2 separate regions of the Homo sapiens genome follow, and region 1 is linked to region 2. Evidence: fine-mapped expression QTL. A gene starts in region 2. The other region holds a variant in brackets. All regions are shown on one strand. Distances are from middle to middle.

The links. PIP is the estimated chance that this variant, and not a neighbour inherited with it, causes the effect.
Region 1: its variant is fine-mapped to the expression of BCL11A in lung (TOPMed, PIP 0.95). The same link has a PIP of 0.9 or more in nasal epithelium.

The regions. Positions count from the first base shown.
Region 1 is chr2:60,521,695-60,536,991 of GRCh38, reverse strand. All of the region lies in intron 2 of BCL11A (BCL11 transcription factor A), which reads left to right. Among named protein-coding and RNA genes, the nearest start is that of BCL11A, 24 kb to the left of the region's middle. RefSeq lists enhancers at 1,054-2,723, 4,602-5,161 and a silencer at 6,182-6,251. The variant C/T (reference allele first, on the strand shown) is at 8,364.
Region 2 is chr2:60,546,313-60,561,609 of GRCh38, reverse strand. It overlaps BCL11A (BCL11 transcription factor A), which reads left to right and starts at 7,956. Exons shown (of 4, transcript NM_022893.4): 1 at 7,956-8,394. The coding sequence starts at 8,340. RefSeq lists enhancers at 4,092-4,241, 5,464-6,072, 6,647-6,696, 10,523-11,295, 11,626-11,675 and 1 more and silencers at 6,317-6,446, 7,387-7,476, 8,886-9,245, 9,766-9,825, 9,886-10,195 and 1 more.

The DNA.
Region 1 (15,297 bases), 25 kb after region 2:
TTGCTTAACAAGTCAGCACAGACACGTACTTGTTTGTACAATAGAGATAAAAATTCCTGTATAAAAATAATTCAGCTGCTGACAGCAGGCATTGTTGTTGGACCTGTCTTTTGTGCTTGTCCCAGCTCTGGGTCCCCCTCCCCTCCTATCTGCTTGGGGCAGCCTGCTGCCTGCACACTGCTGACCAGAAGTTAATTGCTATATATTAAGTATATAGGTATTGTATTTAAAGAGGAATATCTCAAGGCTTCCTATATGCATTCCACTTTACTTTCTGATGTGATTGCGGTGTTGCCAGCAGGGGGGTGGCAGGCAAACGCTCTAATAGGGAAAATCACTTGAAGGCAGTTAGGGGAAATTTGGCCTTCAAGTCCCATTTGCTCTGTAGTGTAGCATTGGTTTCTAAACTTTTGTTTTTAATCTAATTCTGATTTGCCCTGTCACATCCCATATCAACCCTCATTGAACTCTACTCATGTAGAGTAACATTAGTGTCAAACGGAATTGGTCAGGACTGTGGACCTGTGGCTCATACAGATGGTTGTGGATGTGGGTTCCATGCAGCTCTGCATCCTATCCTTTCTAATAAATGTTAAAATGTGGCACATTTCTGAGCAGGGCCCAAGGATAAGAGAGTTAAGAAATCAGGGGGTAGTACCTGAGATTTTTCTCCCTTCTCTTTCCGATTTCCTTGATAACATCCACATTTCCGGTAAGATCAACTCTAGGAGAAAGTCTGAGGCTGGGGGAGAGAGGGGGAGAAGGGTGCGGAGAGAGGTTCTTGGAATATTCTTCGATAGCAGTTCAAATGAAATCCCCACAGCAGAGAGCTTTTGGGTCTAGCAGTGGAGCGGTAAGCTGGGACACGTGGCCTTTCGAAGCTGTTATTCTCAGTCTGACTTGCACACCAGCTGAGATAGGACTTAACATATACTTTCTTGCTTTCACCTGGGTTGGAGAGGTTGGGGTTGGGAGGAAGAGGAGGAGTTCATTGGGAATTCTGTCACTAGAATTTTTTAAATGTCAGGAGGTTAGCAAGGTGTGAGTTAGCATTCAAGCAAAGGATTCTTCTCCAGACTAGTAATTGGAAAGCCTGCAAATCCAGGTTCCCACGATACTCTCTAATAACTGGGGTGGGATGGTGGTGGTGGGTGGACACCACAACTTTCTGAATGTCAGCTGATGTCTGCATGACCCGTTCACCATGGATTAAATGCGGCTGGTGCCGAATGGAGGAAATCAGAAAGGCAAATCTCAAGCAACAGGATTTGCACTCCTCAGAAGTAAACCAGACCTTGCTCCTCTCCCTCCTGTGCTTCTCCTTTCTTGCTGGTTTCCCTTTGGAAGCAGAAACTTCTAAAATTAATGCCACTCCAAGCCAATGAAAAAGCTGTTTTTATACCACAGTGGATGTTTACACAGGAGAGACAACTTGAGGGGGAAAAGGCTTTTTGGAAGGGTGGAGGGACTCGTGTTAATCTGTTCTGTTGGAGGACTATGCAGTATTGCCTATGAGCGACTCTGGGCTGTTTTTGATAAATTACCATGTTTAGAGATAGGTTTGGCTCTTAAGGGCTTAGTTTTATGAACAAAGTCCGTGACGATGTTTGCAGCCTCTGTTTGTATCTTAGCCCCTTTGGCTTGACTAGAAGCTCTATGTTTAGTTTAAGCTCAGTCTGGAAGATATTACAATTTTGCATTAAAAAAATGAGGAAATCATAGGAAGAAAAACCCTTTGCTTTTTGGATGAATCTTACTGATAATTTGCTAAAGCTCATTTGAATTTTAAGCACTTCTTTAATCTTCAAAGGCTAAATTGCTTTATGAATATGCATGGTGTGGGCAGACTTCAGTTCATTACCTAGTTGTAAATTCTAATGACCATTAGGTCCTTCCAGTAATTGCGAATTGTTTTGCATTTTTGATTGGCCTATTAACATGTACATTCGGTGCACATCAGGCTGGCCTGTCAGCCTGCTGAAGGAGAAAAAAAAGGTGAAAATTGTTTATAGCACCAAGATTCTTAGATTTTCAATCTTGCAAAATTGATGATGTAAAAAAATTAAAGCAGTGTTTTTTCTTCTCAAGATTAAAAGTTCACCAAGAGATTTGACATATTTAATTTACATGATGACTTTGCACTCCTTCATTAATGTAATTTGCATATGAAGCTGTTGTTAATCACTTTTGATCATGTTTTGTGTATTAGCTGCCTCAGTGGCTCTCCTCCTCAGATGCCCCAGTAGAAAGGAGCAAAATGATGCATCTTCTTGCCAAGTTTCCTTTAGTGAATTGAGGAATTAGAAGTCTAACCTTGAGTAATTACATATGTTTTATCCGTTTTCTTTTAACGTTAAGTACAGTTTGTGAACGTGTTGGCTGGAAATCGTTCTCATTTGGGGAGAAGACTGTAAAATTTAAGTATATGATTGAGGCACTTCCAGATACATAGAGAAATATGTATTGCCTGTTTCTGTTCCCCACGAACATTGCAGGGCAGTTTTATTGTTAGCAGTTTGATGGCAGGAAGCCTTGGCTATTATAGTGTATTAAGACATCAGGTTCCTCCTTTGGAGGAGGGAAGGCTACAGAACTACAAACCTTTCTAACAATGCTTTAGGTTTCTTCTTTAGATAGATGGCTGGCACCTAAAGGACTTGGGCCTGGGTTTGGCTGACTCTTTTATCTTTTAGATCAAGTAAGTTTTCTCATTCAGCTGCTGCTCTGAGCTACAATGTGTCCTCCCCTCATCACCAAAGTATATCCTGGTCTCCAGGCTCCCTGGGCTCCCAGTGTCTCCCTCAAGGTACACGAGTGCCCTGGTGGTGAAAACAAGGTGCTAACTAACGGTTTCCGATTTTTGAGAGCCTGTGATTTTGGTGTTTGCCTTTGCTGTTGAATAACCTGTGCTGTATTATTGATGTTCATCTTTGGTTTATGAGTTTATCACTGGTTAACAAGCAGAATCAGAACAGTGTAACTGATATTCTGATTAAAACGAATGTTTAATGAAAGAAAATAAATTGTGATGGAAAATGAACAGTGTGTAAGAAACATAACTATAATTTTAACCTCCGAGGGACCTAGCACTGCCCTACCGTGACTTCCATCCATACCATGCTAAAAGCATGCTTCAGTTTAAAGTTGTTAATATTCAGCTGGGAAACAGTATCCAGAACACAAATAAATTATTAAGTGCATGAACTTTTTAGGCAGTAAGATGAACTGATGGGGTCCATCTGTGAGATCCAGGGGCTTTTTATTTGTGTGTGTCGAGCGATTCTGCCCTCTCCGACTTCACAGCCTTTGGTCTCCGGCCAACTGCATGCATAATTGATTCCACACGCACTATCATTTTCTTGATGTAATTGCTTTACTAAGATATGATGAAATCTAATGGATAATTTGCTATTTGAAAATGGTCAAAAAAAATCTTCATACTTTATGTGGGGCTGAGTGGGCAGTGGAGAAAGGGGTATTCAGCTGACCCGGTATTTAAGAAAACAAAACAAGCAACACTAACTTATGCATGCTGCTTCAGTCGCGTTGGCTGTGGATAGGAAGGTCTTTGTGACATATGGAAGCCAGTGTATAAATCTCTCTCCTTCTATCTTGCATCACCCCCTTCATTCCTTCTCTCTTTCTCTCCTCTCTCTCTCCCCCAAACTTTACAAGAAAGGGATCCTAACAAGGTAAAAAGTAAACAATTTAGTCATCACAAGCCTTATTATTCAGTCTATCCAGGAGTTTTGCCATGTCGGTTTATTTAACTTCCAGGAATGTAAACACTGACACAGCCCTAGAAGCAGCAAGAAAGATTACAGTATTAGAGTTAAAAACGTGAGCATGGAGGAGCTGTGCTTTATACTCTGCTATAATAACACTTTACATTGAAACATAATGGTAAGTCAAAAGTGACTGGAAACTTCTGCTTATATGGAGTACAAATTTCATTCTAATAGATTGGCATAATCTAGTGTACCCAGGGTAGATTGTTATATAATGGAGAAACTGTATAAATGTCAAGTACACAAATAATTCTACAGGAAGTAAATAAAAAGTATTAGAATTTCTTAAGTCACCATTAAATTTTGGTGGTGGGACAATCTCATTAGCTCCTTCAAAATCATGTGGCTTTGCATAAGTCTTTTGAAAATGTATTTTCAGGGAATTTACAGATGGTGAAACATTGTTTTAATCCAAACCAGTTAATGCTTTAAATCTACCTTTAAAAAAATTGTACTGTTTTTCGAAGTACTTAAAGGGAGTGGAGGGGTAGAAAGCATATAAGTGAATCCATCTCACTGTGGCAAACTGTTTTTCAAGTAAAGTCATAATAATGAACAACACATGATCTGAAATTTGATCAGCAAACATATCCTTATGCCAAGGAATTTTCTTTTTTTCTTTCCTTTTTTTTCTTTTTCGCCATTCACATACCAAGGTTCTGTAAATCAGTAAACCAGGCAGAGAGTAACTATTGTAAGGGGGAAACCAAATCATAATACCCAGAGTGGCCCAGAAGCTGTCTTTCTGAAGAAACATTAACGCCACCACCACCAAAAAAAGAAAAACAAAAAAACAAAAAACAAAGCAAAACAAAACAAAACCTTTTTAAAAAACTGGAAATGACAGAATAGTTTTAAAAGGAAAAAAAAAAAAACCCAAAAACCAAAAAGCAACAACCACCTTCTGACGCTCAAAACTTCAAACTATTAATAGACCACCAGTGAGATAGACTGTCTTTGTGCCTTGAAATGCAAAATGAGGGAAATAATTAGCAGAGGAACAAAATTCTCAAAATTTGAAGAACTTCTGTGATTACTGGGGGTACAGTGAAAAGAAAATGCAAATTTCTTCCTGATCTTAATTAGATTCGATTGTGCGGTGGGTGTGTTGGATTTGGGGGGAGGGGCAGAGGCAGGGAGTGCTGGGGTGAGGCGTGAGGCTGAGTGTTGTGGAGACAGGTTAGCAGGGGCCCGGCGGTGTGGCAGGAACAAAGGCAGCTTCCAACGCTGGTGCAGGATTCCGAGCCTTAACCCAGATGCTCATGGTGCCCTAGTCTTGAGTTCTTCATTTAGGTGGGCTTATTTCCCACTGGGTCTGGGGGATTTCATTTGTCCTTTGAGGGGCAGGGTGGACACTGACAGAACAGCTGCGGCCGGCAGAGAGGGTGGTTAGGAAGAGGGAAGCAGCCTGTGGGTAACTTCCCGACCACATGGAAAGGCTGAATAAGACGTTATGGACCCTGCCTTGGGTACTGGGGTCAGCGTCTCCTGGTGGTGTCTGCACAGGGCCCCCCAATGCCAGGGCACTGCCAAAACACGCTCTTGAGTTTAATGGTAGTGGTTGGTCTGAGTCCTGCCAAAGTGTATGGAGCAAGTTTCATTGGCTGGACTTTCCCCTTGCATGAAATAATAAAAGCCCTGGCCAAGGCTTATGAATCTATTTTTGTTTCATTAATATTATTTATTATGTATTTTATTAATATTTTTTGGAGGGACCTTGCTCTCATTTGACCATTTGTAGTTATAATTAATGCATTCCGTACTGGTTGTAAAAAGTGTGCTTGCATTTAATTGCAAGTCAGGGTAAATTAATGGATATGATTTAAAACAAAACTCACTTAAAATATTCTTGCAGAACGCAAAGGAGGGGGCAGTCCCAGTATTTAATTTATTTTCTGGTTTAGTGTTAGTGTGAGAGGGTCGAAAAGATTCTGTGGGTCCAACGGGATTTGTGTCTGTGTGTGCAGGACCGTCGGGCAACACAGAGGGAGGAGAAAAACCTGGACCGGAGTAGGGTAGCCAGGAGCTCTTTTTTTTTTTTTCTCTAATTTCTGAGGTTGCCAGGAGGGGCTTAAGCAAAGTGGTCAAGTCCATCTGCTCCGGAGAAGGTGGTAAAGAAAAGAGGTTAGTGGCAAGAGGGAAGGAGCACAAAGGGAAAATTGTACATTGGGAGCGTTACTCTCCCTGGCCATGGTGTAGCCAGACTGGTTTAGCAGACAGAATGATAGATTGTTTTGTCAGGGGTCCCAGGGTGCGCCCTGAACTTGAAGCACTTTGTTTATCTTGAATAGAAAGGGAAAAGCGCAGACATAATCGATGTCTAGTTTTTAGGAGCTCGAAAGAGGTAGGAGAACAGAGAAGACTCAGGAGGGGTAGTGGGAGGTGGGGGAGGTGCAGGCCCTGGTTGTGGTTGTCCATTAACAGATGAACTTGGCCGAGGGCCAGGCTTTAGATGAGAGCGTGTCAGGGCCCCAGTGCAGCCAAGCCTTTTCAGTGTTTTTTTTTTCCTTTTTCTTTCTTTCTTTTTTAAATACCTGCTGACTGTACATCAAATGCTCCCTGGTCTTTTGGCTAAAGGCAAAAAAATAAAAAATAAAAAAAAAAAGAGACGCACAGCTCAATTTTTTCCCTCCTCTGAACCAGTTGAGGCCAGTCTTTTGGCTACATATGCGGGTTCTATCATCTTTCCTGGCTTGCCGTTGGGAAAAAAAGTTGTGATAACGCCAGTAACCCGAGGGCCAGATGGGAAGGGTTTGGTTGTGTTCAGGCGACCAGGTGTGAGAGCTCGTGGTGCAGTGGGGTGGGGCGTGGCCGGCGTGCCTGCGTGTGCAGGTAAGAAATCAGTGGAAACTCTTTTTTTTTTTTTTTTTTAAATGGCTGAAGTTTAACTTGTTGGAAGGGCCTGTGAATTAAGCTGTCGGTGGCTGAGAACGATAATATGCAAGGAAGGCTCAAGGAAGGCTCAAGAAAGGCCAGGGGTGGGGAAAAGGTGCTCTTGTTAGAGGCGCAGCCTTTCCTGGGCAGGACCCAGGACCGATGGCAAACCCATGTGTTTGGGCTTGTTTTGTTCTCGATTTTCTTATCTTCTTGGCCTCTTCCTGTGTTTTTTAGTTTATTGTGACATTATGCATTCATATATGAATGTTGGCAAGCAGGAGTCATCATCCCAATAACTTCCTGACATTTTTAGCTCTTTTAATGTGCAGTCTTTGCCCTCCTGCCACAAGTGGCGAAGTAATTGAATTTCCCTGTTACTAACTGGCAGGAGGCATGTTCTAGTTCCCACCAGAGGAGCTGCTGGGGCTAAAGCTGGGTTCATAGAATCCCACCTAGGGGACACCAGGGCTTTCAAGTGGTTTGGGGACCTGTCTGAAATGATATTCACACAATAAAAAATATTTTTCCCATCATAGACTTGAAAAGGCACCATTGTGCACATCTATATAAAATGTGATAAAATCACATTTACTTCCCCTGGCTAGGCCTCATAAGGGAGGCAGGATTTCCTTCTCCTTTTCTAGTAGCAAATAAAAACTGGGAAAATTTGGGGGCCTCTGGGTTTATCCCATGGATACCTGCCCCCGCTCCCGCCCGCCAACTCAGCCAAGCCCTTAGAGGCAGTCTTCTCTCCCACCTAGATGTCTTTGTAACCTGAGCTGGTAAGAAAGGGAGGAGGGACAGAAAGAGGGGAAATATGCCCTTGACATATGATGTATCTTCTTTCTTTTCTTCTTCTCTTTGATTACACGAAATAAAATGGTTTAGGCTGAGGGTAAAGAAGTAATACCATTTCTAGTTGTGCAACCTTGGGCAGATTTCATTCCCTAAGCCTCCGCTTCCTCAATCTGTAAAGTGGGGAGAATCACGGGGCTTGCCTCATAGGGCCTTTGAGCATCCTATGAGAGCATGTGGGGGCGCTGGGCTCAGTGCTGGGCACATGGTAAAACATGTCACAAAAGCTCATTACTATTACGGTTATGACTCATGGCTTGGAACTGTGTGCTCCTGGGGTCTCAAAGTAGTTCCCCCATTATGGGGTGAGCAGGTTGGGATGAGAGAAGAGCAGGGCAGGTGGGGGTCTAAAGAGCTCAGGGTCTCATTATGTTTCTGGTGGCAGCTCCCTCGTGGGTGGGAGTCCCCTCTCCCCATAGACGTGTGTTGCCTTACGAGAGGCTTGTGCCTGCCTGGGTGTGTGACACAGTTACTCTGGGTTCAGATTTCTATGTTACTGCTAGCTGGTTGGGAGAGTCTGAGGGAATCATTTCACCTCTCTGTGAAATGGAGATAACTCAAGGTCCCTTACCTCATAGAGTCCATGTGAGAAGTAAATGAGGGAAAGCACAGACATTACTCGCTCCGGGGGCTGCACCTCCAGAATTGCTGTTGTCATTATTACCATGTGTCTGACACATTGATATTCCATCCCACAACAACCTCGGAAAGGAAACACTCCCATTAGCCTCATTTGGTAGAGGAGGAAATTGGGGTTCATCAAGGGTTAAATGACTTCCCTGAGGGTCCACAGTTGTTCAATCCTTTGGCCTGCGGCCGCCACCCTCTGCTACCTCTTCAGTA[C/T]GTTTGCAGCTTTCTTCAGCGGTGCCAGGCAACAACTGGGCAGGAAGCTCTGGTGCTGGACAGTTGTCCCTCCCATGGGTTCTGTGGTCAAGTTTTTCAATCTTCTGGGAAAGAGAAGAATGTTCCCCTCCAGTTCTGGGCATATTGAAGGAGCACGGAGCTGTTGGGAAAAGTTGCAATGTAAGGAATCCTGCTTTGCAAGTAGTCATTTCCCCATCTGTCCAGAATGAGCCTGAAATCAAGTGAGGGTCCTGAGAAACAGAGGGAGGAGGTTTTACTGTTTGTGTGTGGCTTGGTCAGGAGACTGCAGTGGGCTGAATGAGAAACTAAGCTCGGACTTTTAAGAAGTGGTGAGGCTTGGCCTGCAGCAGTTCTGTGTGTTGTCTCTGTGGCATTTACTTCTCGGATCGTACCTTCAAAGGCTGGGGAGAATCAGAATTATACAGGGAGGGAGAGACTGAGTGTGAGTGAGTGTGCGTGGCAGTGGTGTTTCTTAGGACGATGGGTTCTGGGGGGTCATAATCTGCTTCGAGGAGGTTTTCATTTCTGGCTGAACAAGGCTGTGGTAAGGCAAGTCCGGAAGGCATGCTGGAAACTTGAGGGAAGTTTTGAATGGAAACTGCAGTCAACAGCTCCATATGATCCGCATGTGGCTTCCCCAGAGGCAAGTTTTCAGCTGCGTGGTGGCCTCTCCCAGTCACTCCACAGGCTGCCCTGACGCTATTAATATTTGCTGAAGCAAGACCTGAGGTTCGTTGCAGATGGATTACACAATGTATTCCAAAACCAAATGTTACTGTTTTCCTGTATTCTCCATCCTTTCAAATTGGCCAGGCTAACATAGACCTCCACTGAGAGAATTTCAGAATCATTTGGTAGTTGAGAAGCGCCTACTTCATGCGGAGGCCCCGTGGGAGGAGTGGAAGAGTTGGCCTCAGCACTGGCGAGTATCGGATGGGAGCTCTGCTCACTTGGTAAGTCCTTCTGCTAGAACCAAGGGAGGCTGTTCAGATCCATCACAAAGAAGTTGTCGGTCACATCCAGGTTGTCTTCTGAGTTTGAGGTGGGATGGAGGTGGCTGCTGAGAATCCATGTGGGTCAAGAGCTCCAAAGCTTCACTTTTACTTCGCACTCTGTCCCGGGGCATGGACGTCCTCAATGGAGGTCATGCAAGCCCTTCCCCCTCACCCCTTCTCTTGGCCCTCTTCATTGTCTCTACATACCCTTGGGTCAAGAGTGTAGTGGTTCTCCCTTGTCACCCTGGAAGAGAAGCTCTTAGTTTTATTTGCTGGGTCTCCTAGACTGAAATGATAAAGCTGAAATGATAAAAGGCGTATCATGGCTTTAGAACCCTTCTTATTTCCCTCGCTCGCACCCCCTAGTTTTCCTTCTCTTCCCTTGAAAATCAGTGAAAATCAGGCCACATCTCTGATGATGGCCTTTTGTTTCTTTTTCTTTTTCTGTTTCTGCCTTCGTTAGGTAAGCACAAATTTGATGTCCCAAGAGGCAGGCCGGTGACCCTTCAGGCCAAGTGCCTGGATGTGGCAAAGCTACAATAAATATCGAATGGTGAGAGCAATGGAAATTTAGCAAAGCCATAACCGGGGAGACCTCAGAGGGGCAGTGGACTGGTTAAGAGGCTGTTGGATGAGCCGGGTAGTATTTCTACTTCAACCTGATTGAAATGTCGACTAAAAATCAATGCTGTTGACTAGTGATAATTTACAACGTTCCTGGTGCTAAGTAGTTCCCCGCTTAAGAATGCGTTGGCTGGGCAGAGATTAGCGCAGGGAGTTGTGTGTGTCACAATGAATCAGACGCATTATAGGTCAGCCCTTTATTTGTTTCATCATGACTTTTACACAGTTGTCATGTAATTTATGGCTGCTTTCACGTTGTCAAACATTTTCATTGCATCTTCTTCTTTAACACCCTCCTGACATAGACACACTGCACTTGAAGGCTTGGTATTGTTTCATAATCCGAGAGGAGGCCTATAAACCATCAAATTACACTATCTTTGGGCTAATCTAAATGCGCTGCAGATTAAAATCAGAGCTCATTTGTCCCTGATGCAAATTATTAAGTTCTAATTATAAATACCCATTTAATTACCCGACACATTTTTATTTTGCGGACCCTTTTGAGCACTGCTGTCTGCGATGCAGAGGGGGTGGGGGGAGATGCATAGGAGACAATCTGCAGTAATTAATGTACACTTCCCAAATGGTAAAGGATAAACATATGCTGCTTTGTTTGTCTTATTTATTTATTGATTAGATGTATAGAGACTTTGGCGTGGGCACAATCTGAAGTTGAAATCCTTTTAAAGATGAAAACTATTTAAAAATCTTTTGGGGAAGAAAGAGCAAAATATAGCCAACCAATAGCTTTCTGCTAGAACACATCATCCCAAAATATGGGATTCTGAATTTGATCAAATCACCAGTTTCTGAATTTGATCAAATCTAGATTTTGCAGAAGTTCAGGGTGAGAGAAACCATGCCTGTTTTATATCTAGAAAGTGAAATCATTGTTATAGAAAAAACCTACTGTGGTTAGAAAAAAACCACATTCTTTTTTCCCAGCCCTGCTGCCATCCTCTACCAGAAAATAACAGTATCTGCCTGTAGTATGAAGACCTTCCAATTGAGAGCATTATGATAAACTATTTTTGATTACCAAACACGAATGAAGGAAGAAGATAACATAAAAATTAGTAAAGGCCTTCCAAGTAGACATTTACCCTTCTGTGAAAGCCATGGAGAAATTACCAAGACTGGTTTGGGGGGAGGGCATTTAAGGTCTTTTGGGCATTACAGATTTTCCAGAACCAAACTTTGACTTTTAGTGTTAACAGAGAGACACTGATCTGAAAACCAGGACACCTGGGTTCTGACCCTTATTGTATCATGCTGTGAGATTTTGGGCTCCCTTCACCTGTTAGCATTTGTTTCCTTGTCTTGTAAAGTAGGTAAAATAGATAGTTTGGACTGGGTGGGTCTCTAAGTCCCCATGATGTTCTAGCATAGTATGAACACCACTGACCAGTTTTCTCCCTGCTATTTTTTGGAATCTAGTTGCTGAATGGGGCTCACCTGCAAAGACAGCAGAATATTATTTTCTTGATTTGCCTCAAAGATGGAAGCTATGGTGGAGATTAAGGCTTGGATTCGTGATTCCCCAACAGAAAGCTTAAAGGCATCTTTCAAATTGCTGGAAGCAAAATTGAAGTGCAGTATAATGGAATGGTGATAATTCACAGAAGTTTCCAGCCTTATAAGATTTCTCCATCTTTTAATTGTTGCAAGCTGTTTTTTTTGAAAAACTCCAAAGAATGTAATGTGTATTTTCTCCAAGTTTGCTTTTTTGGGCAAATGTAACTACATCAAAATAGAAGTACGTTTTTGAAAAAGAAATAGTTGAATTCAAACAACCAGGTATTTTAAATTCAATTAACTGACTGAATTCAGTGATATTTTCCTCCTTCCTCCTCCCAAAAGCTGGTTTCTCTGTATGGACATAGCCTACATATGCTGAGTCCCTGGAGTTAGGAATTTTTGCTTGTTAAAGGCATCCGATGCAACATGTTTAGAAGAACTCTCCCTCTGTTAGTGTTGAAGACAGCATAAATTGAGGGAAAATGTTCTTTTTTTATTCATCATGTAGGTAAAAGCATATGGCCTGTTCTGGGACATGCGATCTTTGCAATCCATTTTTTAAACTTGGTGTTTACCATTGGCTTTTAGCACGGATGTTTCTGTTTTCCACACTGTCCAGCAAATACCATTTATATGTGGCATTGAATGAGATATGAAATGTTTTCAGAAGCATGCTGAAAAAGGGCATTCAAAGTTATCCTTTGGATAATGATGATCTAAAACTTTCTTTTATTATCCCATGTGCTCAGAGTAAGGGGCAAATGAATCAGTTGTGAAATATGTGTTCCTTGTAGGACACAGGCACTCTTGAGATCTATAGCTTCAATAAAAAGGTAATTTATTTAAATTACTGCCTCTTTAATTTATAATGTTTTGGGGATTTTTAATAGGCATGCTCTGTAAGGGCACTGGTAATCAGCTGTTTCTGATTTTGCATGCTCTTCTATCTCTGGTAACAAAATAAAATCTTAAAAAACAAGAAAAAAGAAAAAAAAACAAAAACAAAAACAAGGAACATAAAGTTTAGCCCTAACCCAACCCAAAAGCAAATAACAGGCCGAATGAATGGCAGCCCCCCAGAGGCTCTACTTTCCCCTTCCATTATTACCTGAAATAAAAGCATGATAACATTCATGCCAGAGATAGGTGACAAAATTATGTATTCAGACATGAAGTTTAGGATTTCATAGCCCAATGTTCTCTCTTCTCCCCCACCTCTTATTGTGTTGTGCAAATGTATCAGCCGTTGTATTGTTAATGCATGATAGGAAGCTGCCGCTAGGACAGTCTTGGCTCACTAATGCGGTCAGCTGTGTCACAATGTGATATATAGATTATATTTACCATGGCATATTTTGTTTGCGAAATGGGAGCGGATGATAAATGAAGATACCCTCCAGTTTTCACACTAGTTCCTGTGGTCCGGAGTCTCTCAAACAATAAAGCACCCCTGATAATGGAGAGGTATTTATGGGAACATAATTGACTTCAAAGTTTTAGATCTCTGGCTGAAGTTTAAGATGGGATAGTCCATTACATTAATGTCTGTGCTTAAAGCTCCTATTTGGCTTAAATAAATTATTTAGGGTTTACTGCTTAAACCTTGGTCAATTCTTGAACGTTTGGGCTAGTTAAGTAATTTTCCAGTGACTTTCTGTGCCTTGGTGATTCATTTACTTGATTGAGCTCCTGTGTGCTCGTATGATTTCTAAATGTATTTCTCAAGTTTTGCCTGGCAATGAATGATTTTGCTTACTGGAGTCTTGTGTGGTACACCTATAAAAGGCTTATTAACTCTTTTTGAAAAAAAAAAAAATCCCCAAACACATCAACACTGTCATCATAAGATAAAGCATATATACATATGCATCTATATACACACATACATATGTACATACTACATATATACATACGTATATGCATGTATGAATATATATATAGTTGTGTGCCTGTGTGTGTGTAGAAAGGGAGAGAGAGAGAATAGGAAAGTCTTTAGAATTCACCATGATTCCATCAAATCAATATAGAAGTTTTTGAAAGCTATCCATGTAGAAACCACTTTTCATCAAAATCTGACTTAAGCAAATTATCTCCATACTATTTATCTGAAAGTCTGTTGTTCACATAGCGCTGGATTGAGGATCATAGTGGCAAATTTAGGAGCAACAGTCCCAAGCAGGAATCCTGGATGGCAGGCTGTCCTTTGTGCCTCCCCTGAGTTGAGAAGACTGGTGTTTATTCTTTCTCTAGGTTGCAACACGTGTTGCCTTGAAATCTCCCTTCTTTACGGTTCTGCCATGAGTGTATTTTCTGTGACCTGCCTCTGCATCTGGTTAAATGGACTTCAGTAATCTGTACACAGTTACTTCTTACTTATTTTATATCCTGAAAGATATTAAGTCCAACAAGCTTTTACCCACAGAGTCTACAGAGAAAACGGCCAGGCAATTTTTGTTTCAATCTCTGTGTCTCTCTGGAGCACTAGTTCCAGAGGCTGATCAATAGGTTTTATTGTAGACCTCACTGTCTCTAAAAGCATTTTGACCTTATCCTGTCTAAAAATAGTATTTGCTCTTGCCTGCAGAACCTTGACCTGTGAAAACCCATTTGGAACATAACTGACATATCTAGTCAGCTGTATATCCAAGACATGCTCTGTGAATGAATTCTGTGCAGAACCGTCCAGGAGAACACTTTCTTCCAAGACAAATGAATTCCAGTTCTGAACACTGGGAGTGCACCTGCTTGTCGGATGTGGTGATGGGCCACATGGTGGGGAGTGAGGGAGACTCAGGGCCTGTGGGGCAGTCGATGTGGGAGGACTGTCACAGAGACTCTCAGAGGGTGCATTCAGCCCTGAACAGGGCAAAGGACTGCAAGGGGCAGGAGCTTGGGCTGACATGCAAGGTGGCTTTACACAAGGCCCTTTTTAGAGAGTGTGATTCTCTGAAGCTTTTCTTGGCAGCTTCAGTCTTGAACCTCACTGGAAGGGATCCTCCAAAACATGACCCAGATGGAAAGAAGTATTTCTGAGTTTAAAATAACTCCCCTATTTGGTAATACGGGACTTTATTTGTGACTTTATTATTTTTAGGTGTGATAATGGTTTTGCAGTTGTATTTAAAAGAAAAAAAACGAGTTCCTATGTTTAAAAAATACATACAGAGGTGTTTACTGATGAAATGATATGACGTCTGGGATCAACTTAAATAATAAAATGGGCTAGGGAGGCGATAGGGTTACAGAAGACAAGAATGACTGTGAGCTGTGGTGGTTGGAGCTGGAAGATGTGGACTTGGGGACTGATTTATAACATTCTCTCTACTTTTGTAGTATTTGAGATTTTTCCAGAAAATAAAGGTATTGCCTGACTGGTGGAGAGCAGTATGGCCTTGTTTAGTCGGTGTTGTTTCTTCACCAAGGGTTTGGCTCAGAGGTAGCAAGGGGACAAGTGTCCTATGGGCAAGAAAGTACCTGTGAGCTCAAGTCTTGTATCTGGGAAGTTCATTGTGAAGGGGTCATTTAAGGGTCTGTACTGTGCACTGTCCCCCATTCTCCTGGAAGAACAGAGATCCCTTGTCTTTTTCAGTGCATGAGGCAGAGTCAGATGTGGCGTTTGCTTGAGTTTCAGCACAGGTGCCTCTGTGCCTCGTGGTGAGGGTCAGGAAGAAGCAGCTGGGACGTGCTCACGTGGCTGGTAGTGTTATGAAGACAAGGCTTTGGGACCTTTCTTTGGCCATTTGAGCCCTGGCTATTAGAGAAAGATGATTTGC
Region 2 (15,297 bases):
TTGCTGAATTTGACAAGAAAAAACCAAAAAAGACTATTGACTATCACACACAAAAAAAGTCTTAATTTCTAGAGAAGGGACCAGAATAGTCTGGGCTGTGCAGTGCTCTCTGGGAATGACTGGCATTCAGCTGGAGTGGTTATGGGGTTAGGCAATTATGGGGTTTATGAGACACTGGTAGAGAAGGAACTTGAGCCTGGTGACATGTTTTGATGACTGCTTCCCTTTTGTCACTCATTGAATTCCAGAGGAGACCAACTAAAGCTATTGTGAAGTGAGAACGATCAAAGCCTGTGGTCCTCAGTGGCCTAATTTGGTGGTCTGATCCCAGTCAGAGGGAATAGAGGAAAGGAACTGCTCTTCTGAAAGTGAAAAGATTTCTGAATGCAGATGTGGTTGCTGCATAGCTCTTGGTGGGCCTTTCTGTGTGAAGTCAGTGACCTTAGGGTCTGCCAACAACATCCAGCCAAGGTCACATTTTGGTGGAGGTGCCATGAGCTGCATGCATTTAAAAACTTCACTTTAACTTGTCCGCCACCTGATGTTTATGGAGTGGCTTTTCTAAAGCAACAAGATTTGGAGAAACAAAGTGTTAGAGCTTCTAACCTTACCCCATCTTTCATCCTATTTCTACTGCCCTCTGGTGGACATGTTAATTAGAGAAACTGCCACTCCCCACCCCATCAGCACTACCTTCTCCATCACCATCACCACCAGTATCATCATCACCACCACCGCCACCTCTATCGCCACCATCATCATCATTACCACCACCATCCTTGTTTTCCTCATGCATATACTCAGCATCGGCCACATCATCACCCATAAACATTAGTTTCATATTATGGTGGTGGTATACCAGGTTAATAGTACATATTTCAAAACTCTGGTCCACCGGATTATACAAAGTAAATTCTTCATCAATCTGTCAACAGTCAAAGTCAAGCAGAGAAATACATGGTGTTTGTGTACAGTCCTTGGGTAACTCAGGATGACTGCACCATGCTATTGCCTTCCAAACAAACCAAGTGATGCCAGGAAAGCTGTACCTTTTATGAAATAAGATGTGAATACTAACTCTTATTTTTACCACACAGTTGGTAGACAGGATTAAGATGATCTGAGGTGCTTTATTTTTCCTTTCTGGTAAGTTCATACTTTTTCATCAGAAGGTAGCACAGAATGCATACCTCTGTGTATATGTATGAGGTCGCAACATTCCTTGGCATATAGTCTTGATTTTTAAGTTGTTTCTTTCTGTGTGTGCGCCTATATATATGTAGGAACACACACACCCACACATACATACTCCAGGATAAAATAATAAAAACTTATAAAATCGCAAAGAGTACTTGTCCAAATAAAGGACTAACTGCCTATAAAATTTCCTTTCAGGCAGTGAAGTCATAGCTGGAAGTTGGCAATAAGACCATCTGAAACTACTAAAAACATTCTGAAATGTTCTGGAGGAGAGAGAGGGAGAGAGAGAGAAACAGAAGAGATAGAGAGAGAGAGAAACAGGAGAGAGAGAGAGAGAGAGAGAAAGAGGAGAGAGAGAGATCCAAAAGCTTCCTCAGCTGAGTTATTCTGCCTTTTATAAAACAAGTTCACATCTGGACTGATAACTTGAATTCTACCCAGTGCCATTTAAATAGCCCAAGTTATAAACCTCTTAAACTTGGGGTTTATAATAGAAACACTGACAGACCCTTAACTATAGTGCCTCTATAGTAATGAAAGCACAACTATTTCATTATAGCAGTGTCTGGCAGGGCTGCTATAATTAAGAGTCTGTCAGCGTTTCCATTATAAACCCAAATTTTAAGAGGTTTTTAACTCACATTGTTTTAAATCACATTGGGCTGAAGCTGGCTGTACAAAATGTCAGACCAGATGTGTGTGTGTGTGTGTGTGTGTTGCTTTTTTTTTTATTTACGAGAGAGAGGGAAAGAGAGAGGCATATAGGTGAAGGTTGTTTTTAAGATTGGGTTTGAAAAACACGTATTAAAAAATTATTCCCTTGCTAAAGGTAAAAGATGCATGGGGTAGGGAAGCATAGAGAATCAAGTTTGAAATACCTTTTATTTTTGGTTGTTTTGATTGTATTTTTTTTCCTTTAAAAGTAGTCTCATTTGAGAAAGCAGTTTTGTACGTATCCAAAAGCAATGTTAAAAAAAAAAAGAAATCATTTGATACCAGCTTATTGATACTGGCTTATTTGGAAGATATTTGATAATGTATGCTGCTGGAGACGATGGAAATATCTTGTATTGTTACTTGTTCAGCTGCTCTGATATTCGAGATAATCTTTTCTGAGCTCACCATCCTTGGTGGGAATCACTTTTATGTTTAAACACACTCTTGGAATAGGGTTGCCTGATCAAAGCCTTATTAGTTTTGGGGGAAAATGAATAGAATTTGGATGGTTATGTTGGTTTCATGTATGTGGTGATAGGATTTATTAGTTTATTATTTATCAAATTATTATTTATCAGATAACTTTATTAATTTATTATTTATCAAAGACCATTTATTGGACATCTACTGTGTGCTGATTATTGCATTAGGAACTCTCTAGTGCAGTACATTCATTGGACTGGCAGCATTGCCCAGCACCTCTGTGTCTTTGATGTCAATATTAGGAAGCTAAACTGAGCATTTCATTCAGTAGCGTTCTAACTAGAACTCTTTGTCTCTTCCAAGGGGCCCCTTACTTATGTGGTAAGACTACTGCTCCCTCTTCCCCATACATTATTGACTTAGCACACAGCAGCCTCATCTAGAGGAAAGTATAGACTTAGAGCAGGTTCAGCTCGCTCCTTCCTTCCTCCCTCCCTCCCTTCCTCCCTCCTTTCTTTCTTTCTTCCTTCCTTCCTTCCTTCCTCCCTCCCTCCCTCCCTCCCTCCTTCCTTCCTTTCTTCCTTCTTTCCTTTTCCTTTTTCTTTGGATAGGTTCATTCAGGTGTTTGAAGCGCTGACTGCTAGCTAGCTAAAGGCCCAGGGAGCCTGGAGAGAAAGATGCCAGACTAATGGTTCTCCCAGGAGCCTCCTTGAGAGATGTCTGTGCCTTTGTAGAAGGTATAGATACTGTCCTCCAGGGACCTCCCAACCTGTGGGTCACACTGGGAGTAGAGGAGGAAAAAGAAGCTCATCCTCTTCCACAAGCAACTCCCTAACATTTTTATTATTATTTTTTTGAGACAGGCTGTTGCCCGGGCTGGAGTGCAGTGATGTGATCTTGGCTCACTGCAACCTCTGTCCCCCAGGTTCAAGCGATTCTTGTGCCTCAGCCTCCCAAGTAGGTGGGACTACAAGCATGCGCCACCATGCTCAGCAATTTTTTGTATTTTTAGTAGAGATGGGGTTTCACATTGTTGGCCAGGCTGGTCTTGAACTCCTGACCTCAAGTGATCCTCCCACCTCGGCTTCCCAAAGTGCTGGGATTACAGGTGTGAGCCACCACCCCCAGCCATTCCCAACATTTTAAAATTCATTTTTCCTTTGTCTTAACAACAGCCTAGCACTTCCATCATTGAGACCCAAAATACAAAACCTATGCCAAGCATAGAATCCAAACCTAAGTTTTATTTTTATGAAGATGACTGCCTGTTCTCTATTTTGTGACCTGCCAATTAGGAAAAACAAAAAATAAAAATTAAAAGAAAAGAAATAAAAAGAAGAAAAAAGGCTAAAGTAAAAATCAAGAAGGAAATGATTGTATTTTTAATCATTCATTCAGTCATTCACTTATTTATCTTTGAGTCTATGAAGGTGTTTCCCCCTAAAGGCAGACAGTGAATATTTTATTTTAATCTTGTAGTTTCCATCCTGACAGACCTTTTAACCCTTCATCTTCCAGCTCAGCCCGAGTTCCTCGCGCCAGGCGATCCTCGGTCCGAGGGCTGGGACTGTATTAAGTCTCCCTCTTCGAGCTGTTTGTTGACCACATTCACGTTCAGAGCCCTTGAGCTAAAAGCACTTTACACCATAAAATAAAAGCACTGTCTTTTTTTTTTTCTAAAAGGTTACGTCTGGAGGCCACGCGGCTCATACTTCATACCGAAAACTACTGAAAGGACTATGAAATCCTGTATGATTTACACTCTCTCACTGCATTAGGGTATAGATCTACTCAACTCTAAAAATACGGTGGGTTTCTAACCGACGTGAATATATGTGCATTATTTCAGAAAGTCTGTTAGAAAACTTGTCAACACATTATAAAGCATAAACTAGGACTTGGCTATTAAGTACGGAGATCAGAGGCAGAATATATACTGCAGGAAGTCCTGGGGCGTCTCCTCCGCGGGCAAGATAAAAAGGGGGAGGAGGGAAGGGGAGGGGTCGTCTGCTGGCCTGGAGTTTACACGCAGTGTCGTCACCAAAGGTTTGGGAAAGAGCCCACGGAACGTAATTACCCTTTCAATGGGAGCAGCAACAGCTCTACAGCCCCAAACGAAGTTAACTGAACGGCCAGAAAATAATTTTAACGTTGTCATAATTTATTACTTTCTAAAAGCCACTTCTGGAAAGGTAAATATACTTATTGTGTATCCAAGTGTGCGCATTTAAAGTGACCTTTCACCCCCTCTACAAAACCACCTGCATCATTAATCAATACTTACGTAATATTTTAAAATCTCTTAAAACGACACATCTTTCTTTAAACACACATACAAACCCTCCCCTCCCCCACTTTCGGGCTCTTTAGCGAGCATCCAGCAGTGCTGAGGGAGGGGTTGTCGCCCTAGGGGAGGGCACCAGGGGCCGGGGAGGGGGGTCGACGACCAGGAGGGATCAAATGCCGACACACAGCCGTGGTTTTCTGGACTGGGTGAAATCTGGCTGGGGGAGGGGCGGGAGCGGAGGGCACTTCCCATTTCACCCTGGGCATATTATGATGGTGAAATTAAATATATGTCGGGGAATCGTCGCTGCTTACCTCTCCTTTGGCACCCAGGGAAAGCAGCTGCAAAACTGGCTTTTTAATGTATGTTTTAAGATGTGGTTTAGGAAGGAACCCCCTGGAATCTGAAACAAGTGCAATAACATAGCAGACCTACTTGTAACTAAGTGCTTAATTTCCTATGTTTTTTTTTAAAAAGGAAAATCAATAAAATGTTGCCAGTTATTTATTGGAAATAGCCACAGATAGCAGCCCTGATAGGGTGCCATCGTCAGAGCGCACACAATTGTGTAATGAATTGTAATTCAGAAGACTGTTAAATGTGAACCACAGAACCTTTCAGAGGTAATAAAGTCATTACTTTTTACACTACAGCCAACCCCGAAAAGCTTTATACACACCATTATATATAAATCATACATATATATATATTTCCACAACACTCACTCGCTCATTTATATATCTTCTCTATAGATGGACTTTTATGGACGGGTGGGAACAATATTCAAATCTGAAAAGCTTGGTTCTGAAAGAATCTGGCTCACTATTGTTACCTGAAGGGGCTTTTCTTTTATTTATTTATTTTTCAAAGGCCTCCCAGTTGCACTTTCTTCTTCCCTCTCTTCACCTTCCCTCCAACCGTCCCCCACGTCGTCCTCCCCCGCCACCCCCCAAGAAGACATTCTTTTGGTGACTCCAAGGCTGGTTTAACAAGACAAAAAGCAGACTGTGGTGGAATAGAGATGCTGACCTGCTCTGAAGAACTCAGTGAAAAGGGGAAATGGTGTCACACACAAGCTACAGAGCTTAACTTCTAGTGAATCCTCCCGCTTCTTAAACAGAATTTGAGGTCTCCCTCCCACAAACTGGAGGGAAACAACAACAAACAACAAACCACATTGACACAATCCCAGTACAGCCCACATCTCTCTCAATGTTGAGCATCAAAACCTCCTTTTCTTCCTTAGAGGGGTCCGAAGCTCCGCCGAGCTAGGCAAGCCAGTCATTTTCTAACACAGTAGACTTGAAACTTTACTAAGACGAAACAGGAATAAACAGCCGCTTGCCGGCAGGGCTGCGGGATGGGTGAGCGCGTGCAAGCCCGGGGCCCTCGCTTAAAACAATAAAGCCCCCCCACCGGGTGGGTGAGTTTACGGAAGCGACACCCTTTAGACTGAAGAGGGGGATGAGAAGACGGGGGTTGTGGAACCGCTCCGAGGAGAGGGAAGGAGGGCTCCTCGCTCTGCAGACACACTCACACATATCCACCTGCAGCTCAGGGTCTCGCGGGCCATGGCGACCCGTCTCCACCCTGCACCCTCCGCACCTCCCTTGGACCTGAGTCCATTCTCCTCTCCCCCCAACTCCTTCCAGATTTGGAATCGGACTGCGATCTCCCCGGCGGCGGCGGCGGCGGCTGCAGAGTGGTGCTGGCAGGCAGGGAGGCTGGGAGGCGGGAGGCGCCAGGGGACTTTACAGGCACGTTTCTGAATAAACTTTCCAATCGCAGGGGGTGCTGTTGCTGTACATTTTACGTAAAACTGAAAGTATCCCACGCCAGAGTGAAGCCCGCTTTTTGACAGCGGCAGCACGCGCGTGTGTGTGCGTGTGTGCATTAAAGAGACAGGGTTTTATTTCCAACAGGTCTTCCCTAATTTCCAGGGAACGTCTGCAGAAAGGCGAGAGGGGGCTGCTGGCTCCTGGGTGTGCGCCTTGGCCGGCGGCGCCTGGGGAGCGCGGCGGTGACCCGAGGCGGTCATCTCACCACCGTGGTCTCCCCGCTGCTCCTGCGAGCCTGTCGCTCTCTCTCCATTCCCATTTTCTCTTTCCCTGGGTAACAGCACAGGAACAGTTGTGCTCTGCCCGTAAGAAACATTTTCTTCCCATCCCTCTGTGCTTTTGCAGTTGCTCTGGAGTGGGAGGGGGTGTGTCCCTCCCAGGGACCCGGCTCGGGGACCTCCCGCGGCGCCGTGAGCACATTCCCAGGGACTGGGACTCCCGGGACTGCCCGCGCTTTGTCCTCGGCCTCTCAGAGAGGTGGACGCCTCGGTGCCTCTCTTGCCCAGGCCCCCGGCGCTCCCCTCCGGGGGCCAGACTCTGGCTCCTCGTTCTTTATTCCTCGGGCTCTCTTTCTGCGACCCTTAGGAGCCGGGGACTCGGCGCTTTCAGTTGCATTCAGACCCAGTCGCTTGGCGGGGCGCTCAGATTCCCGGTCCCTGGCTCGGCCTTGGGGGCGCCCTCGGGCCCCGGCCTGCGCCGCCTGCCTCTCCCCGGTCCCCTCTTTCCAGGCCGCGCGGGCTCCTGGAGACTTGGGCGCTGCCCTTCCGGACCCGCAGCCCTCCAAACTTAGGCTGGATTCCGCGTTGCCGTGCGCTCCCTCCCACCTCCCCTCGCCCGCTGCGGAGCTGTAACTTGGAGGCTCAGCTCTCAACTTCGGGTGATTTTTCTTTGCTGTCCTCTCCTCGGGCAAAGTTTCCCGAGCGCAGCCGCGGGCTCGGGGCTTTTACTTCGGCCCCTGGCGTCCACACGCGGGGAGCGAGCGCGGCGGCGGCGGGGAGGGGAAGTGGGTGTGCGTACGGAGGAGGGTGTCCGGGAGCAACTCTACCTGGCTTCCCTCCGCCCGCGCTTCCCCAGCCCGGGGCTGCAGCCTCCCGGTGCACTCTCGCTCTATTTTTTTCTTTTTTGAATAATCTTTCATTTTAGAGTCCGCGTGTGTGGGGGGGAGCAGGGCGCACGTCTTGCTCCCCCCCACCCTTTCCTCCCACCCCTGCCACCCCTTTCTTCTCTCCCGGCCACGCCACCGCCGCGGCGCTCGCTGCGGCCACTGGTGAGCCCGCGGCCCCAGCGCCCCCTCCCCTCGGCCCGCCCCTCCCCCGGGGGCCGCGTCTGGCGTCCGCGGAGCCCCCCGCCCCGCACCTCCCCCTCCCCGCACTGGCCATTGGCTTGTCCTGGTCTCTTTTTCATGTCCAGCCCCTGATGTGTGTCCATTGGTGTGAGCTTCCCCTTCCCTCCTCCCCTTCTCTCCTGCTCGCCCTGCCCATGTTTTGTGTGTCTCTGTCCATCCAGACTCCTGACGTTCAAGTTCGCAGGGACGTCACGTCCGCACTTGAACTTGCAGCTCAGGGGGGCTTTTGCCATTTTTTTCATCTCTCTCTCTCTCTCTCCCTCTATCTCTCTTCTCTCTCTCTCCCTCTTTTTTTTTTTTTTTTTTTTTTTTTTTTTGCTTAAAAAAAAGCCATGACGGCTCTCCCACAATTCATCTTCCCTGCGCCATCTTTGTATTATTTCTAATTTATTTTGGATGTCAAAAGGCACTGATGAAGATATTTTCTCTGGAGTCTCCTTCTTTCTAACCCGGCTCTCCCGATGTGAACCGAGCCGTCGTCCGCCCGCCGCCGCCGCCGCCGCCGCCGCCGCCCGCCCCGCAGCCCACCATGTCTCGCCGCAAGCAAGGCAAACCCCAGCACTTAAGCAAACGGGAATTCTCGCGTAAGTAACCCAATAATAGTAATAATAATTATTAATAATCACGAGAGCGCGCAGGACTAGAAGCAAAAGCGAGGGGGAGAGAGGGGTGTGTGCATGCATTTTTAAATTTTTCACGAGAAAAACCTCCGAGAGTCGAGGTAAAAGAGATAAAGGGGGAAAAAACCCTCATCCCATCTGGAACCATTGCCGTGTATGCACTTTTGAGACAGCACGCACCTTTTAATTTTATTTAATTTTACAAAAATTTGACTCCTCCTCTTTCCTCCTTTCCGCCGCTTTATTTCTCTTTTCGAAAAGGAATGCAATGATTCCACTCCCCCCCCGCCCCGCCAGTTTTGCAAAATAATGAACAATGCTAAGGTTGCGAACAACTCACATGCAAACCTGGGGGTGGGAGCTGGTGGGGAAAGGGAGGTTGCTTCCCACTCACCGTAAGAAAATGGGGGGGTAGGGAGGGAGTGAGTACAAGTCTAAAAAACGATTCCCGGGGAGAAAAGAGGTGAGACTGGCTTTTGGACACCAGCGCGCTCACGGTCAAGTGTGCAGCGGGAGGAAAGTAGTCATCCCCACAATAGTGAGAAAGTGGCACTGTGGAAAGGGGCCCCCGGCGCTCCTGAGTCCGCGGAGTCGGGAGAGGGGCCGCGGCGACGGGGAGAGCCGTGGGACCGGGAAGGACGGGAGACGCGGCCGGCACTGCCGCCTTTTGTTCCGGCCAGAGGTGGGTGTTTGTCCCGCTGCCTTTTGTGCCGGCTCCTCGCGCTTGCCCTCCCGCGCCGCCGCCGCCGCCGCCGCCGAAGGGCAGGAGCTAGGGCCGGGGGAGGAGGCGGCCGGGGGCACGCGGGAGAGGGAGGGAGGGAGCCCGGACTGCTGCCTCCTGGGTTGCCGCTGCCCTCCCCTCCCGACCGAACCTCAGAGGCAGCAAGGAGAAGACTGGCACATAAATAAATAAATACATAAAAATAAAATAAATAAAACAAGGCAAGAGAATGTACAATTTCTTGCCCCCAAACCGAAGCCAAACGCTCTGCCAACCCTTTTCTGTGACGGCCTTCTCTTTGACTCCCCCACCAGCCCCCCTGCAAAAATCTCACAATCTCTCATCTAGAAAAAAATTTACAATCACCCTCTTCCCCCAAACCCCTTCAGTTGCAAACTTAGGGCGCCGACGGCACGGAGAGGGAGAGAGGAACTCCCTCCTCTTACTATTTTTTGGAAGATTTTCAAAAAAAGTGGAAGTGGATTTTGATTGGGAAAAATCTCGTGTCTGAATGTTTACAAGCACCGCGTGTGCGGGAGCCTCCTGCCAACAAACAGACAGAGGACCGAGCGCGGCGCGGCAGCCCCGGAGCAGGCGGCGGCGGCGGCCTGGCCTCGCCCGGGCCTTGCCCGACCTCGCCGCGCCCCAGCCCAGCCCCGGATCGCCCACCCGGCGCCCGGCGCCCACCCGCCAGGCACGGCGGCAGGCCACGCAGTGTCTCCGCGCCAGCCTGGCCCGTGGTCCTGGTCCGCCCCCAGCACAATGCCGAGACCTCTTCTCGACCTCCCAGACTGCGAAATCGGCTGGGTGAAACTCGGCTTTGCAAAGCATTTTTATTTTGCAGGGCAACTGTAAAAGCGCGTTCTGCGCCTCCCCTCCCCTCCGCCCTGGGTACTTTCTCAGACGTCTCTTGTCCACAGCTCGGGACCGCGAGGAGGTCACCACGTGCTTTCCCTGCCCACCCCCCACCCCGCCCGGTCTGGTCACCAGTCCCCCTGCGCCCCGAGCACGACTAGGCCAGGTGGCGGGGTTGCCGGGGAAGGGCAGGGGAGAAGTGTGTTTGAGTGTGCATTTTAAGGGCGCTGGATCCTGGGACCCCGAGCACTTCACCCTTTGGGTCTTGCCCTCTTCCCCAGGCCTGGCTTGGTCTGAGGTTCTTGTGAGTCTGTATAAGAGCTGGTGGTGGTGGCTGTCTCCCGCTGACTGCGCCTGGAAAGGCGGGCGGTGGGCACTTAGGAAAGTTTGGCAGCAAGGGAAAGAAAGGCGTGAGGGCCCACATTCCCCCCCTACTCAATTTATGATTCTTACTTTAAATTTTTGATGCAGTTTTAAAGGACCACCTATACTTGGTTCTGTGTTTTTTTAAAGGGGTGGTGGTGGGGGGTGCGCACAGGGAATTTAATTTTTCACTGGGCCCTGGAACTTGTCACACACTTCGGAAGCTCCCCCACCCCGGCACGTTGCGCGGCCCTCCCTCTCCCCACCCCCTCGCATCCCTCCCTCGCCGCTCTCCCCCGCCCCCAACTCCCCCGGCCGCGCCGGATGCGGATCAGACGCGGCGCGCGGCGGTGTGAAGTTACAGCCCGGCCAGGTACCGGCGGGAAGGAAGGGCAGTGTTCGCAGGACTCGGGAAAGTCAGGCCCTTCTTCGGAAGGATGCAGTGGGGGCTCAAAGGACAGACCGGGGCGCGCAGTCCAGGCTGCTCCCTCGTACCCCTCTCCCTCCTGGGTCCATCTTGGGACACTCTAGGCTGGGAGGGTTAGTACCCCCTCCTCCTGTCCCGGGGTTAAAGGGCCAGTTTGGGAGGGGGTGAGGGGGCCACTTCTTTCTGTCCTCATTTTCTGGGTGCTCAGAGGGGGCAGGAGCCATCCCGGTCCTCAGTACCACCCCCCCGCCCCCCGCCTCTGCTATGTGGGCTGAATGAGCCATTCGGTCGCTAGGAGGCAGAACAAGATCAAGAAAGCTCAGCGAACTTGAACCTGTACCAGAGCCTCCCCCACCTCCTGCCCGGCGATTCTCGTCCGGGGAGGAACGAGCTTTGCGAGGGTGGGGGTGGGGGGAAAGAACGGTTAGGCAGAATTCCCTTTCTCTCCCCCATCACCCCGTATGTCTTTGTTCTTCATTTTGACTTTAAAAATGCTTCTGGCCGGGGCCGCGGAGAAGCGACCGGGCGCGCGGCCGACACCCCCGTGCGCGAGCTGAGACCAGCGCGCGCCGGGCTCGGAGCACGGTGCAGTTTTCGCTTTCTTTCGGGGCCGGCATTTTTGGTAGGGAGGAACCGGGAGTGCGCGCTCTAGGGCTTCGGGGCATGGCCGAAGAGGGGGATATGGCAAGTTTGCACTTGGTCTCCAGCCTCACTTCTTCCACCCCCTCACCCCCATGCAAAGCACAGACCTCGGTGGCCTCGGCTGGCTTGCTGGGCGGCTCTGCAGCCCGACACCCCCCCTCTCGCCTCGGAGCTCGGAATCACAACAATAGTAATAGTTATCATCATAATGATGCGGGCAGGCAGCGTCATTAATAATGAATAACCGCAGCCGCCGCCGCGCACACCCAGTGCCCAGAATTGCGGGGGAAATGCATTTGCAGAGATCCCCCAAAGTAAAAAGTGTAAGCTTGTGGACACAGAATGAATCTCAGGACCCGCGCTTGAGGTGTGTGCGGAGATACTGAGACTGCACCAGGTTAACCAGCCGGGTTTTCCAAACCTCACTTCCTTTTTCACCAACTGGCAGGCCCAGGGAACCGTCACCCCGCGGCCGAGCTGGCCGAGCTGGACGGGCATGGAGGCAGCAGTCAGGGCCCCTGGCTGCCCTCCGTCTCCGGGCCCCCGGGCCCCAAGGCCCCGCGGCCGCTGCTGCACGTGTTCGCAGCAAGCGCGGCGGGAGCCTGCAGCCAGCACGCTGCTCGCTTTGTGCCTCAGAGTCCCCGCGCCCAACTTCACTTTCTGCACGGTCCACCCTTGCCGGGGCCCCTGCCCCGGGCCTGTAGCCCCCGGCTTTGCTTTTGTTTCTTTGCTTTTCCTCTCTGAATTTCAGCCTCCGTTTGCTTCTTTACCCTGTTAAGACAATCAAGGAGAAGGACTTGGAAAGCAAACTTGAAGACACATCTCCCTTTCCCCCTCCCCCTCCGCTCCCCGGCAGCTCTCGTTTTGCTCGCTCCTTACCAACATTTCCTATAAGGATTATTTTTTTCCCTTAAATTTATTCTTTTGCAACTACACAGAGAGGAAAGAGATCTCAGTCTGTCACTGAGACATTGAGACGTTCCAGGCTGTCTTGCTGTTTGAACGTAGAAGCATTTTATTTTCTATTTCTTCCTCCCCTCGTAGAGAGAATTCGCGGCTAATTATTATGATTATTTGCCCACTCCCTTCCACTTCAATCGAGGACTCCCTGCTTTGTAGCCGGAGTTTAGGCCGGAGCTTAGAAATGTTGGTATTGTTGGGGCGAAGGAGGATGGAGTTGAATTGAGGGAGGGGGTAAATGGCTGAGGGTTAGGAAGGTTTTTAGGGAAAGGGGAATTTGCATTAAAATGCAGAGAAATTATCAGATGCCCAGAAAGGAAATGTTGATTGCCACTGAGAAAAGATGTCAATGCAAATCAGTAGACTACACCATGAGAATTGTATTTTCATATTTTCTTTGTGTCCCACTTTGTCTGATTTTTAATAATATACCAGCAATGATAAAAACACGTTTTGGTATTTCTCTGAACACCACTAGCCAAATGTTTTGCAAGGAGACCGATGTTAAACGTATTTCATACATTAGAATATAATTCTTGTTAATTAGCAATAATTTACGTTAAGAGCATAGAAAATGTTGAGGTTACAGGTTTTATATCTGTACATTTGATCATCTTGTTATTTTCAAGAACTTTGCCTCCTATAAAATTAATTAGGTGAAATGTGGAGGTGTAATCAGCAACCTCTGAATTACCACTTCATTTCCCGGTTTTGATTGTAAATCAGTTCAGTCACTACATTTAGAAGACTTTAACCAAGTCTGTTTTGAACCACATTACCTTTAACTATTTGATACCTAGGAGAATATTTCCTTTTGCACCTAAATAATATTCCCACTTTTAGAAATGTGTCAGACCTTGGGAACAAAAAAAAAAAAAAAAGAATCTTAACGGTGGAAATAAAAAATTTTTTTTTTTGCAAAGGTTCTATGTACTAGTAAGTTTGATAAAATATTTTCCTAAGTCTTCCTTCAGTCTGTAAACCTCAGAACTTGTAGCTAATGCTAAACAAAAAAGCCACATTTATCAATGTGTACTTAAAATCCTTAATTCAGACAACAGGAATATTTTGAGAATGAGTTCCCTATTCCTCACTTGGTCAAAATGGAAGCAAATGTAAGAGAAGAATGACATTAAGGCACAATGCAGAGGCACTTCTGTTTGTCTTCTTTTATTTGAAAAGTATGCATATGTATTCTGTATTTATCTTTTGGCCAGTATGTTGGGCAAAGAAACATAAGTGCTTACTTTACTGTCTTTATTAGTAGGAATATAACCTTCATATTCCTGTGGTGACCTTATGTTAAATTAGGAGGAGTACCAGAGGCTAGAAATTATGAGATGTCCTACTTGAGCACAGGTGCAGCTAGGCAGGGCTCTCTCAATATTATTTCACCTAGCACATCTGGGAGTTACTCCAGATCTTCCCCCTCAATATTCAGCCTGGGTAGGGTTGAAATAAATTTAACCTGAGTTCACTGGATTTTTGCACTTTATCAAAATCTGTTCCAATATTCTACACTCAAATTAAAATCTATTTTTTGATTCTCTGTGGCTTTAAGTTCATTAAATGTAAAATTGGCAGCTTGCTAAAGAAGGTCAGACTGATTAACTGTTTAAGACTTGTACATTTTCTGCTTCAGTTTTATTAACTGGCAGCATCCTGGATGTTTTGTATTTTGTGATTTTTTTTTTTTTTTTGATAGAGCAAGCATAAGATTTCACAAGCAGAGACTTACCAACTCTCTTTTCCCCTTTGGAAGCTTAAAAAATGATAGAAGCTGGTAAAGTAGATGCTGGAGTATTTTAGTACAAAGTTAAAAAAAAAAGCAAACAGGAAAGAAAGACATGTCTACCTTGTTATACCATCCGCTGGTGATTATGTGTGCAGAAATAGTCTCATAATGAAGCATTTTGGAGCTCATTCAGAAAATTAGTCCACTTTGACAACATTAGGCGAAGTATTTCAAGTCTAAAGAAAGGACTTCTCAGCCTTGCTCTGAAATGTGGTGTTTGCTTGACCATTCTGATTTTTATATCATAGATGCCACCAAGTGCAAACATGTTTAGAATATTATAGGCATTCCATTTCTCAGAATAAAAAAAAAATGACTAATTGGCTTATTTTCTTAAGTACTCAAAAGTATCCCATTTAGCTAATGTGTCTGAGAAATACTGCCCGTGCATTTGGTATTTCTTTGATTTTGTGGCACTGCTGAGAGTGAGAGCAGAAAGGTTTTTGGCAGTGTGAATTATGCTGCGACATGATTATTATTTAGATCCGTTTCATAGGTGCATGCAGTCGTTTTCTTATTACAGCAGTGTAAATGTGGCACATTTTTCATGTGACATAGTAGCTTTCTAATTTATGAAGCCATGTCTGTTTACTTAGGAGTATATACATTCACACACAAAGGGTGTGTGTGTTTATTCACCTCTCCTTTCATTCTTTGGCACAATGGACAACTTGGTGTATAGGAAAAAAGAAACAAATTTGGTTTCTATCCACTTTTTTTTTTAACCAGTTTTTCTTGTAGTTATTATTTAAGCTTTCTTTATGTTCCCTGTGTTAACTATTTAAGTAGCATTCTTTCTAAACTTACAAACCAGACACATTTGTTGCTGTGGGTGTGTGCATGGGTATATGTGTGTGTGTGTGTTCTCTGGAGTTATGCAAGGAAGACTGTTTTCTTTACATATGTGATGATTTGCCTCATTGACAAATTTGCTCTCTGGTTGATAACCTTCACATCCTTGTACTTTTTGTATGCTCACATTTTCTGGGTATTATATAGAGAAGCCTAGAAACACTTTACATGATGTGGTGGGATGGCATGGGGTTGAGATGTGCTTCTCCCCTTTCTGTCCTCTCTGGCACTCTAATAATTGTGCTTTTGTTT